2 separate regions of the Homo sapiens genome follow, and region 2 is linked to region 1. Evidence: fine-mapped expression QTL. A gene starts in region 1. The other region holds a variant in brackets. All regions are shown on one strand. Distances are from middle to middle. Region 1 holds the start of SEMA3B-AS1 (SEMA3B antisense RNA 1). Region 2 holds the start of TUSC2 (tumor suppressor 2, mitochondrial calcium regulator).

Evidence for each region. PIP is the estimated chance that this variant, and not a neighbour inherited with it, causes the effect. A credible set is the group of variants that fine-mapping cannot tell apart.
Region 2: its variant is the best candidate, but not a certain one, in a credible set for the expression of SEMA3B-AS1 in subcutaneous fat (GTEx, PIP 0.86).

What each region holds. Positions count from the first base shown.
Region 1 is chr3:50,265,011-50,269,389 of GRCh38, forward strand. SEMA3B-AS1 (SEMA3B antisense RNA 1) reads right to left here and starts at 2,361. Exons shown (of 2, transcript NR_110702.1): 1 at 2,271-2,361; 2 at 1,631-1,877. SEMA3B (semaphorin 3B) reads left to right here and starts at 4,137. Exons shown (of 17, transcript NM_001290060.2): 1 at 4,137-4,339. The coding sequence starts at 4,231. RefSeq lists enhancers at 1-41, 1-492.
Region 2 is chr3:50,325,440-50,329,818 of GRCh38, forward strand. It overlaps TUSC2 (tumor suppressor 2, mitochondrial calcium regulator), which reads right to left and starts at 2,784. Exons shown (of 3, transcript NM_007275.3): 1 at 2,515-2,784; 2 at 918-1,038; 3 at 1-747. The coding sequence starts at 2,660. The coding sequence ends at 682. RASSF1 (Ras association domain family member 1) reads right to left here. Exons shown (of 6, transcript NM_007182.5): 6 at 4,349-4,379. RefSeq lists an enhancer at 2,919-3,028. The variant C/T (reference allele first, on the strand shown) is at 2,362.

The DNA.
Region 1 (4,379 bases):
ACAGGGCCCTCAGAAGGGAAGGGGAACAGGCAAGGAGGGGAGGAGCTAATCTTTCAAAAAAGGTGGGCCAGGGTTCCCTGGGAATGTGGAGACCAGGCTGGGGTGAGGACATGCCTGCAGACGCTTCCCCAGGAGATGCCCCTGGGGCAGGGCCTTAGAGTGTCTGGGAAGTTAGGCCTCAGGTGATGATCCTATGGCCGCCCACGCCTGCCCCCACTGTGCCTAAGTCCTCTGGGCAGCATGACCTGGTACCTACGTGGCCAGAACAAGGAAGAGTTGTGACGTTGGAGCCACAAGCCCTGATGACTAAAGCAGGTGTGAGTGGGGCGCCCAAGATCCCATCCAGTCCAGGCTGCACTGGGAGGGTTGCCACAACCTTCCTCAGATGGGTGTCCCACCCCAACCACACCACCCGGAGTCCAGGCAGGGGCAAAGGGGCAGGCCCAGCTGGTGGCCAGGGGTGGGGAGGCAGGTGCTGAGATTTGGCACAACAATCCAGGTTTTTCCAGAAGGAAAAGCCAAGGCCGTGGTAGGCCATGCCACTGACAGGCAGCCCCAGAGCAAGGACCCAGGCAGGTCTCTGCCCATGGAAGCTCCCTCAAAAGAGAGAGGTCCAGGGTAGGAGTACAGGCAGGAAAAGGGACCCCAGCTGCCTTGCCTGGTTTGCCCCATTCTGTTGAGACTCAGGCTCAGGCTGCCTGATTCCAGAATCCTCGAGGAGTTCCAGCCCCCAGTGTGACCCACAGGCAGTGACCTTGCTCCTGGAGTGCTGACCTCCATGGGGGCCCCTACCCATGGCCTGGCACACTGGACCTGGGGCTGAGGAACAGAAAGGGGACCATGTGGAATCAGGGACAACTTGACCTCCCATCCCTGGAGACCTCCATTCCTACTCAAGGGAGGGTACACATCTAGAGGACAGAGGACAGGGCACAGCACTCAATGGGGACAGAGACAGTCTAGTCCTTTTGGCTGGGGGTTGACTCCCAGGCTATTGGAAAGATAATGGCGGTGGCGGGGGGGTTTCTGATACCGTTTCCCAGAGTGAACACAGGTGGAGGAAGGTGCGGGGTGATGAAACAGAGACAGGGCCCCTGGGCCTGGAAAAACATAAGGCAGTGAGGGCCTATGGGGGCACAGTGGGAGTGGATGGGAGCCTCTGAGGCACTTGCTGATCCTGGCTGCTTGGGTGGAAAGCTGTAAACAGCCAAAGAATGTTGTCTGCTTGCATGGAGCCAGGAGAGCCTGCCCAGGTCCTCTAAGGCTAGAGGCAGCTACTCCTGGAGTAGGAAAAGGCCACATCCAGGAAGCCCACGAGCCCAGGCAGGGATCTGTCCTTCCACTTGCCCTCCTGAAGGGCCCTGCGGCTCCCACTGGCCCCTGTTATTTACCTGCCAGCTGGCCAGGCCAGGCCAGGTATACCAGGTCCTCAGGCTCAGGAAGGAGGGGCATAGCCCCACTTCCACTTCCAGGGGACTTGGAGATGTGCCCCCCACCTCTGTCCTTGCTTGGCTGGAGGCATCCAGGGCTGGGCAACAGAACTGCAACACTTGAAATGCCCACACTGCCCCATCAGCCTTGGGAGGTGGTAGGAAAATGCCTTTTGCGGGGATGGAAGGATCAAAGCCCATTCTCAAGCCCTGGTATATTCACTCAGGTGGACTTCAGGGCTCCACTCTGCCACTGTCAACATACAGTCCCTCCAGAGAAGTACCCCTCATGTTACAAATGGGGCACGTTCACCAGACTCAGCTTCAGGACAAGACCCCAGGTCATTCCCAACTGAGGCTCCGAGGTGCAGGAGCTCCGTCCTGTCTGTAAAACTCCCTCAGTTTTCGGCTCTGGGTTTGGTGGGGGTTGTTCCTCCCACCTCCAACCTAGAAAGAGAAGCCAGAGGAAGGGAGGTCACATGGTCTGCCCCCCAACCTCTCAGCAGAGATGCAAAGCTACCTGTCCAGGATGGCGGACTCCAGATGGGCCCCGCCCTGTGGTGCAGAAGTGAGATTTGCTGCTCCTCCTGCGTCTGCCCCTCTCCTGCCCTCCTCTCCCTCCCCTATCTGGCTGTCATGGTAGAAGCCACTGCTGGCCAGGCCACTGAAGTACTAAGTGGCCCAAGTGTTGAGGAAGGATGGGGACTGGGTCCTGAGGGCCCATCCGACCTCCAGTTGAGAGCCCCTCCCCTGACCTCCAGCTGCCCGGCCACCCCAGCCGGTCCCTGGGAACTGAGGTGGCAGCTGAGCTCCCCATTATCTTTCCCCACAGCTCCCCACCTGTGGAGGGAGAGGTTGAGATATTGGAGTCCACGGGTGGTGCCCCCACTCAGTGATTCCCTTTGCCTGCTGAGCCCCTGGAGCTGGGGTTTCTTCCTCCCTTGCCTTGGCTGGCCACCTGGCTTCTGGGACCGCCACCTGGGGCACCCTTCTGCTTTAAGGCCCAATATGGGAGGGGTCGTCCCTACCAGCCCCTCCCTTGTGCCCATTCCACTCCCGCCTGGCTGCCGTCTCCAGCTGGTCCCGGCTGCCTGCCCGGTCACCCGATCCGCCCTCTAAACTTTACGGCACGGCGGGCGGTGCGTGGGGCGGTGGCTGGCCTGGTGGGGGCGGGGGCTGCTTCTTAAAGGAGCCGTCAGAGGGTCCCCAGCGGCCCCAGGGTGGGAAGGGGCCAGAGTGGAGAGATGCTGCTGCGGAAGTCCTCGGTGGAGTGTGAGAAGGCAGCCAGTGTTGGCCTGGAAGACCTCTAGAACCTGAGAAGAGGCAGCGGCAAGTGTCAGCGGAGGGAAGGAGGGAGGTGGGGGTCCTGGCCTGGGATGGGGCCAGGAGCTGGGCAGGAGTGTGGGTGGAGGGGCCTGGAACCTGCCTCAGCAGCTGCTCCACTTGCTTAATCCCACCTGGAACCTTGTCCCACTCCCTGGGCTCCTGTGTCCAGCACCTGCCCAGCTGACCCCTGGGAAGGAGGGTGGGCATAGCAGCCAGGTCTTTGCCCCAGCTGAGGGCCAGGGGGAGGTGTCTGGCTCCTAGAGTGAAGGGGCTCAAAGATGGGGAAGAACTCAAGGGGTGAGAGAAGTGAAGGGAGAGGCTCAGAGAGGCTGTGGAGGCGTTGAGAGGGAAGGCCAGCTCAGCGAGGCCAGGAGGCTGGGGTGCAAATGAAGGGCTGCCTCACCTTGCCCCTCTTTGATTCCTCAGGGGTGTGGAGAGAGAGCCCTCAAGCTCAAATGCAGAGGCTGCTTCAGCTGGGTTGGGAGCAGTCCCCAAGTCAGAGGCTGAGGCTTCTGCCCAGGTCTTGGGTCTCCTGGGTAGCACTTCTCCCTCTGAGGAATGGAGTGATTGATGCTGCAGTTGGATTTGCTCACTTGCATGCCCAGAGACATGTCTATTCTTATGGGTGCACACGTTTGCACATGCACAAATGTGCAACACATCTGTGTGCAAAATATGCACATATCACACATATGTACTGCATGGATTGCACAGTGCCACATGTGTGTGCACACCAACCCATATCCACACATGTGCAATATGACACACTATATATTTGCACATAGATGTGCACACACATGCACATACACACTACACACATGCGCACATCACAAGGGGACACTCGGAAACACATTCACAGGCACCCACACCCTTGGCTCCAGCCTCAAAAGTGTCTCTGTGTTTTTCTGCGGGACTGTGGGGACACTGCCACCTCCAGAGGCCTGACCCCCTCCTGTCACTCTCACTCTTTTGACTGGCTTGTTTTGCTCATTGCACTTGGCACCCTCTGCATCCATCTGATTCCTTGTTGGCACTCTGTCCCCTTTCACATGGGGACCTTGTCTATGTCTCCCAGTATCCCTCCTCCCAGGTCTAGGCTGGCATGAAGTGGGTGGCACATTGTGAATTAATGTCTGTGAGTGTGTATACAAGAGAGGAGATTACTGGGAAGGGTGACGTGGTGAGGCGGGCTTGCCAGTGCAGGGTGACCCTGAGGGTGTGCCCAGTGGCGTGGGTGTGTCTGTGATTGTGGCCAGGCGGGGCACCCTCGGAGGGGAGGGTTCGGAAGTGGAATGCGACCCCCCAGCCTCTTTCCCCTAGGGGCTGTAATCTGATCCCTGGGGACTCCCCCCCTAGCCTCCCGCCCTCGCCCTCACTGCTGACTCCTCTTCCAGATCCTGGGGCAGAGTCCAGGGCAGCTCAAGGCTCCTCCACACACACACCCGCTGAACCCTGAGCACCCTGAGCTGCTGAGATGGGGCGGGCCGGGGCTGCCGCCGTGATCCCGGGCCTGGCCCTGCTCTGGGCAGTGGGGCTGGGGAGTGCCGCCCCCAGCCCCCCACGCCTTCGGCTCTCCTTCCAAGGTAGGTGCACCTGGCAGGCGGGAGGGCCCAGCTTGAGGTG
Region 2 (4,379 bases), 60 kb after region 1:
GGGGGCAACAGTTAGTTGCAGTAGGGGGATCAGCCCAGCCCTGGGTAGAGGGAGAAGCCCCCACCCAGTCCCCACTCCTATCAATAGCCAGCAAACTGTCCATCCATCTGAAGGCGGGAACAAATGGCAGGTAGGTCGGAAGAATCAGGCTGGCACTGCCCCCAGCCTCTGTCCAACACAGGAGGAATCGAGGTAGCAAACGGCTGAAATGCTCTGACTAGGGGTTAAAAGGGAAGTGAAGGAAAGGAAGTTCCTACTTGTATACAGTGCCCACAGCCTAGGGGCTGGAAGAAAGCATACCTTGCTTGTAAAGTGCTGTAGCCTCTAGCAGGGCTAGGCCCCAGGCAAACTTGGAAGAAAGCAGACCAGGCAAGGAACCAGGTAACGGGCATTCCTGACTGGTATATGCCCTGCTGTGCTGCTTGCAGGGGTGGCTTGGGAGAGTGGGGTGCTAACTCTGCCATTAGCCTTCACCACCCACCAACCACCTCTTGTCCACACACAAACCAACACCCAACCAATACTGTGGGACCGACCCGCTCACAGCTGAAGGTTATGGGCCAACAGAGTTTATTCAGGGTTGTGGCCCCAGCCTGGGCTCCTCAATGGAAGCCACACCTTGATTGAGCCTGGGAGTTTCTTGCCGGGGCAGGGGGTGCTTCTGTCTGCCACCTCCCAGGGTCACACCTCATAGAGGATCACAGGGAAATCCACGTGGATGCGGGGGTGATCCAGCTTCACGATGCCCTGCCATGGAAACAGAGGCTAGTAAGGGTCAGCTCAGGGCCTCTACTTCAGGAAGCTTCCTTGTTCCTCCCAGATCCCCCCGCAAAAGCCCCCACCATGACAACAGATCCCATCTGGGTCCACCTCCACACGCTTAGTGTAGGCTCTGTGACCGCTGCCCAGCCCCTCACCTGAGGAATCAGATTCTTATGCACTCGCCTCAGCTTGGCCCGCTTCTGCCCGTTCTTGGTGACGATTGTCTCCTCATAGAACTCGTGAGCCAGATCCCCATCCTCATCATAGAACATAGAGCTGTGTAGAGGGAGAAGGAAACAGGCTGGGCTGGAGCCCCACACCTGGGCATGGCAAATGTCACAGGTCACGGGGAAGTCTGTGGTCTTCCCAACCCCAAGTGGGAAGAAAAGAGGATAATATGCCTGGAGAATCCTTTTTTTAAAAAAAATTTTTCGAGACAGAATCTCACTCTGTTGCCCAGGCTGGAGGTGCAGTGGCGCGATCTCAGCTTGCTGCAACCTCTGCCTCCTGGGTTCAAGCAATTCTCCTGCCTCAGCCTCCCAAGTAGCTGGGACTACAGACATGCACCACCACACCCTGCTAATTTTTTGTATTTTAGTAGAGACGGGGTTTTGCCATGTTGCTCTGGCTGGTCTCGAACTCCTGAACTCAGGCAATCCACTCGTCTTCATCTCCCAAAGTGTTAGGATTACAGGCGTGAGCCACGGTGCCTGGCCTGCCTGGAGAATCCTTTGCCTGGGGTTTGGGGTCTACTAGAAGAAAGTGGGAAGTGAGGTGATGGGTGGGCAGTGCTACTATGTCAGACCCCCAAGAAGAGAGCCCACACCAGAGCACACCATCCAGGCAGCCACCAAGGCCAGTTCTCATCCTTGATTTGTTCAGCAAGGGCAGCCATTCTAATATCAGGACTTTGCCTTCACCCAGGACTTCTAGAGTGGGCAGGGTGGTGGCCTGGGCATGTTGGTCTCACTCCAGAAGATGCTGCTGGCCCAGTGTCAAAGACTGAAATAGCAGAAGCCTAAGCTAGGAAGAAGCACAAAGGAATGAAGGCTGCGTCTCCCCTGACCCCACACCCCAGGTGGCTGGTGAATTGCCACTGTTGGGTCTTCCTGGTGTCTACAGCCAAATCTCTAGCACAGGGAGCGCCCATCTCCAGGAGCCCACTAGAGCCAAGCCAATCTGGTACTCTTGTGCGGGCCTCTGGGAGACTGGGCTGGGGGTTGGGTGGGTAGGTCAGCGCTCTGGATCTGGAGAACATAACTGGGTGAGGGTCTTTTTTCCTCAGCCTCACCCCCAATACTGAGGCCTATCCCTGCTTTCCCAGCCACTACGCTCAAAGGTTCAGCCCCACTACTGTCAGGAAAAGCAGCCTAAACAGAGGGTTATTATCCCCTTGGAATAACTGGGGGGGAAAGGGAGGCTAGGACCCTTCAGTATGCAGGCTGAGCCGGAAGGGATGAAAGGAAGAGATCTTATGGAGGTCTTATGGAGGCCCTAGCTTAGCTTTACCGTGCGGAAGGTCCGACCAGTGACAAGCCTCAGGCCCACTCTTCCCTAGGGAGACTTTCAGAGTGGCCAGGCCGCCAGGAGACCACTGCC[C/T]GGCTTTCTCCACCCCCAGCTCCAATGAGGCTCAAAATATGGGGGTCGTCCTGGCTTGGCTGTAGTGGGGTACAGCGGTGGAAGTTCCCCCGTGGCGCGGGACGCCTGGCCGCCCGCCTGTTCCCCCCGCCAGGGTGGAACCCATGCCCTTACCCGCGGCGCGTGAATACGAAGGGGGGCACAGCTCGGCCCCGAGGCCGCACCAAAGCTTGCTCAGCTCCTGCTGCCTCTGAGCCGCCGCCTCCGGCCGCCGAGGCGAAGGGCCACAGGCCCCGAGCTTTGGACCCGCTGGCGCCCATGTCAGGGCCGCCGGCGCATGGCGGGCCCCGTGGCCGCTCTGCTCACACCGCAGTCCGCACTACCATAACCTGCCCCAGCCGCTGATCGCAGGTGCCGCCGCCGCCGCCTTCCGCAGGCTCGGCTGTCTCCACGGAAACCTCACTTCCGCTTCCGCACGCTGCCACCTCTGATTGGCTGTTGCTCAAGTCGTGGGGGCGGGACCAATGGGCGCCCTTAGATGCTGGGCATCCCAGCATGCGTTGCGAGATCCCAGGTCCCAGCAAGCGCGATCTGACCAGCTGGGACAGCTCCCACCGAGGAAAGTGGTGGCCGTGAGTCCTCCCGGTCTTTTGGGTGTATTTGGCGGCTCTGACGTCCCCCAACACCTGAGTTCAGGCCTAGCAGGACTTCGCAAGCACCAATCCTCAAACCTGCACTTCAGGGCCTAAGGCCAGACCGCCGGGTGCCCATCTGGCTTCTATTTTCACAGCTGTATTTTTGCGATTGCCACGCTTATGTGAACTAACCAAGTTGAAAGAAAATTAAGGAACTGGCCAGATTCACATAGTTACATTCAGTTCTGAAGAACTTCGAATTCAGTGTTTTCAAACCCAGCAGAGTCCATGCTTAATGAAAGCAAGAATTGTTAACAGCTATACCCTCGGTATCACGAGCAGTGTCTGGTCCACGGTGGCAGCTCTGTATTTGGTGAAGGAGTTATGCCACACCTTCTCCCAGAGCGTGGTGTGTGTGTGTTGAAGGGATGGTTTTGTTTTTTTTTTTTTTTGAGATGGAGTTTCACTCTTGTCGCCCAGGATAATGTGCAGTGGCACGATCTCGGCTCACTGCAGCCTCTGCCTCCAGGGTTCAAGCGATTCTCCTGCCTCAGCCTCCCGAGTACTTGGGATTACAGGCATCTGCCACCATGCCGGCTAATTTTTTTGTATTTCTAGTAGAGACGGGGTTTCACCATGTTGGTCAGGCAGTCTTGAACTCCGGACCTCAGGTGATCCACCCGCCTTGGCCTCCCAAAGTGCTGGGATTACAGGCCTGAGCCACTGCGCCCGGCCGTTTTTTTTTTTTTTGAGTTGGAGTCTTGCTCTATCGGAGTGCAGTGGTGTGATCTCCACTCACTGCAACCTCTGCCTGCCGGGTTCAAGCGATTCTCCTGCCTCAGCCTTCTGAGTAGCTGGGACTACAAGCGCCCACCACCACGCCCAGCTAAATTTTTTTTGTATTTTTGGTAGAGATGGGGTTTCGCCATGCTGGCCAGGCTGGCCTCGAACTCCTGGCCTCAAGTGATCTGCCCACCTAGCCCAACCAAAGTGTTGGGATTACAGGTGTGAGCCACTATGCCCAGCCAGTTTCCCTAAGTTCTAACTGCAGTCCATTTTTGTCTCCACCACAACCTGAGCCCCAGGGAGCTGAGTGATGACCAAGTATGTATGCATACTACATCTTCACAAATTGGTCCATGGTGACTTTGCAAGACACCTGGGAGCCTGTCCATCACCCTTGGCAACTTCTGGCACCATGAGGGGCAACTGCAGCTCTGCGCCTATAATAATAAAGAGTCCAGGCTGGGCAGGGTGGCTCACACCTGTAATCCCAACACTTTGGGAGGCCAAGTTGGGAGGATCCTGGGCAACACAGAGAGACTCATGTCTCTACAAAAACTTTATATGTATAAAAGATTCCAACAGCAGGAGGATCTTGAAATCTTTATTGAGCCAATTCTC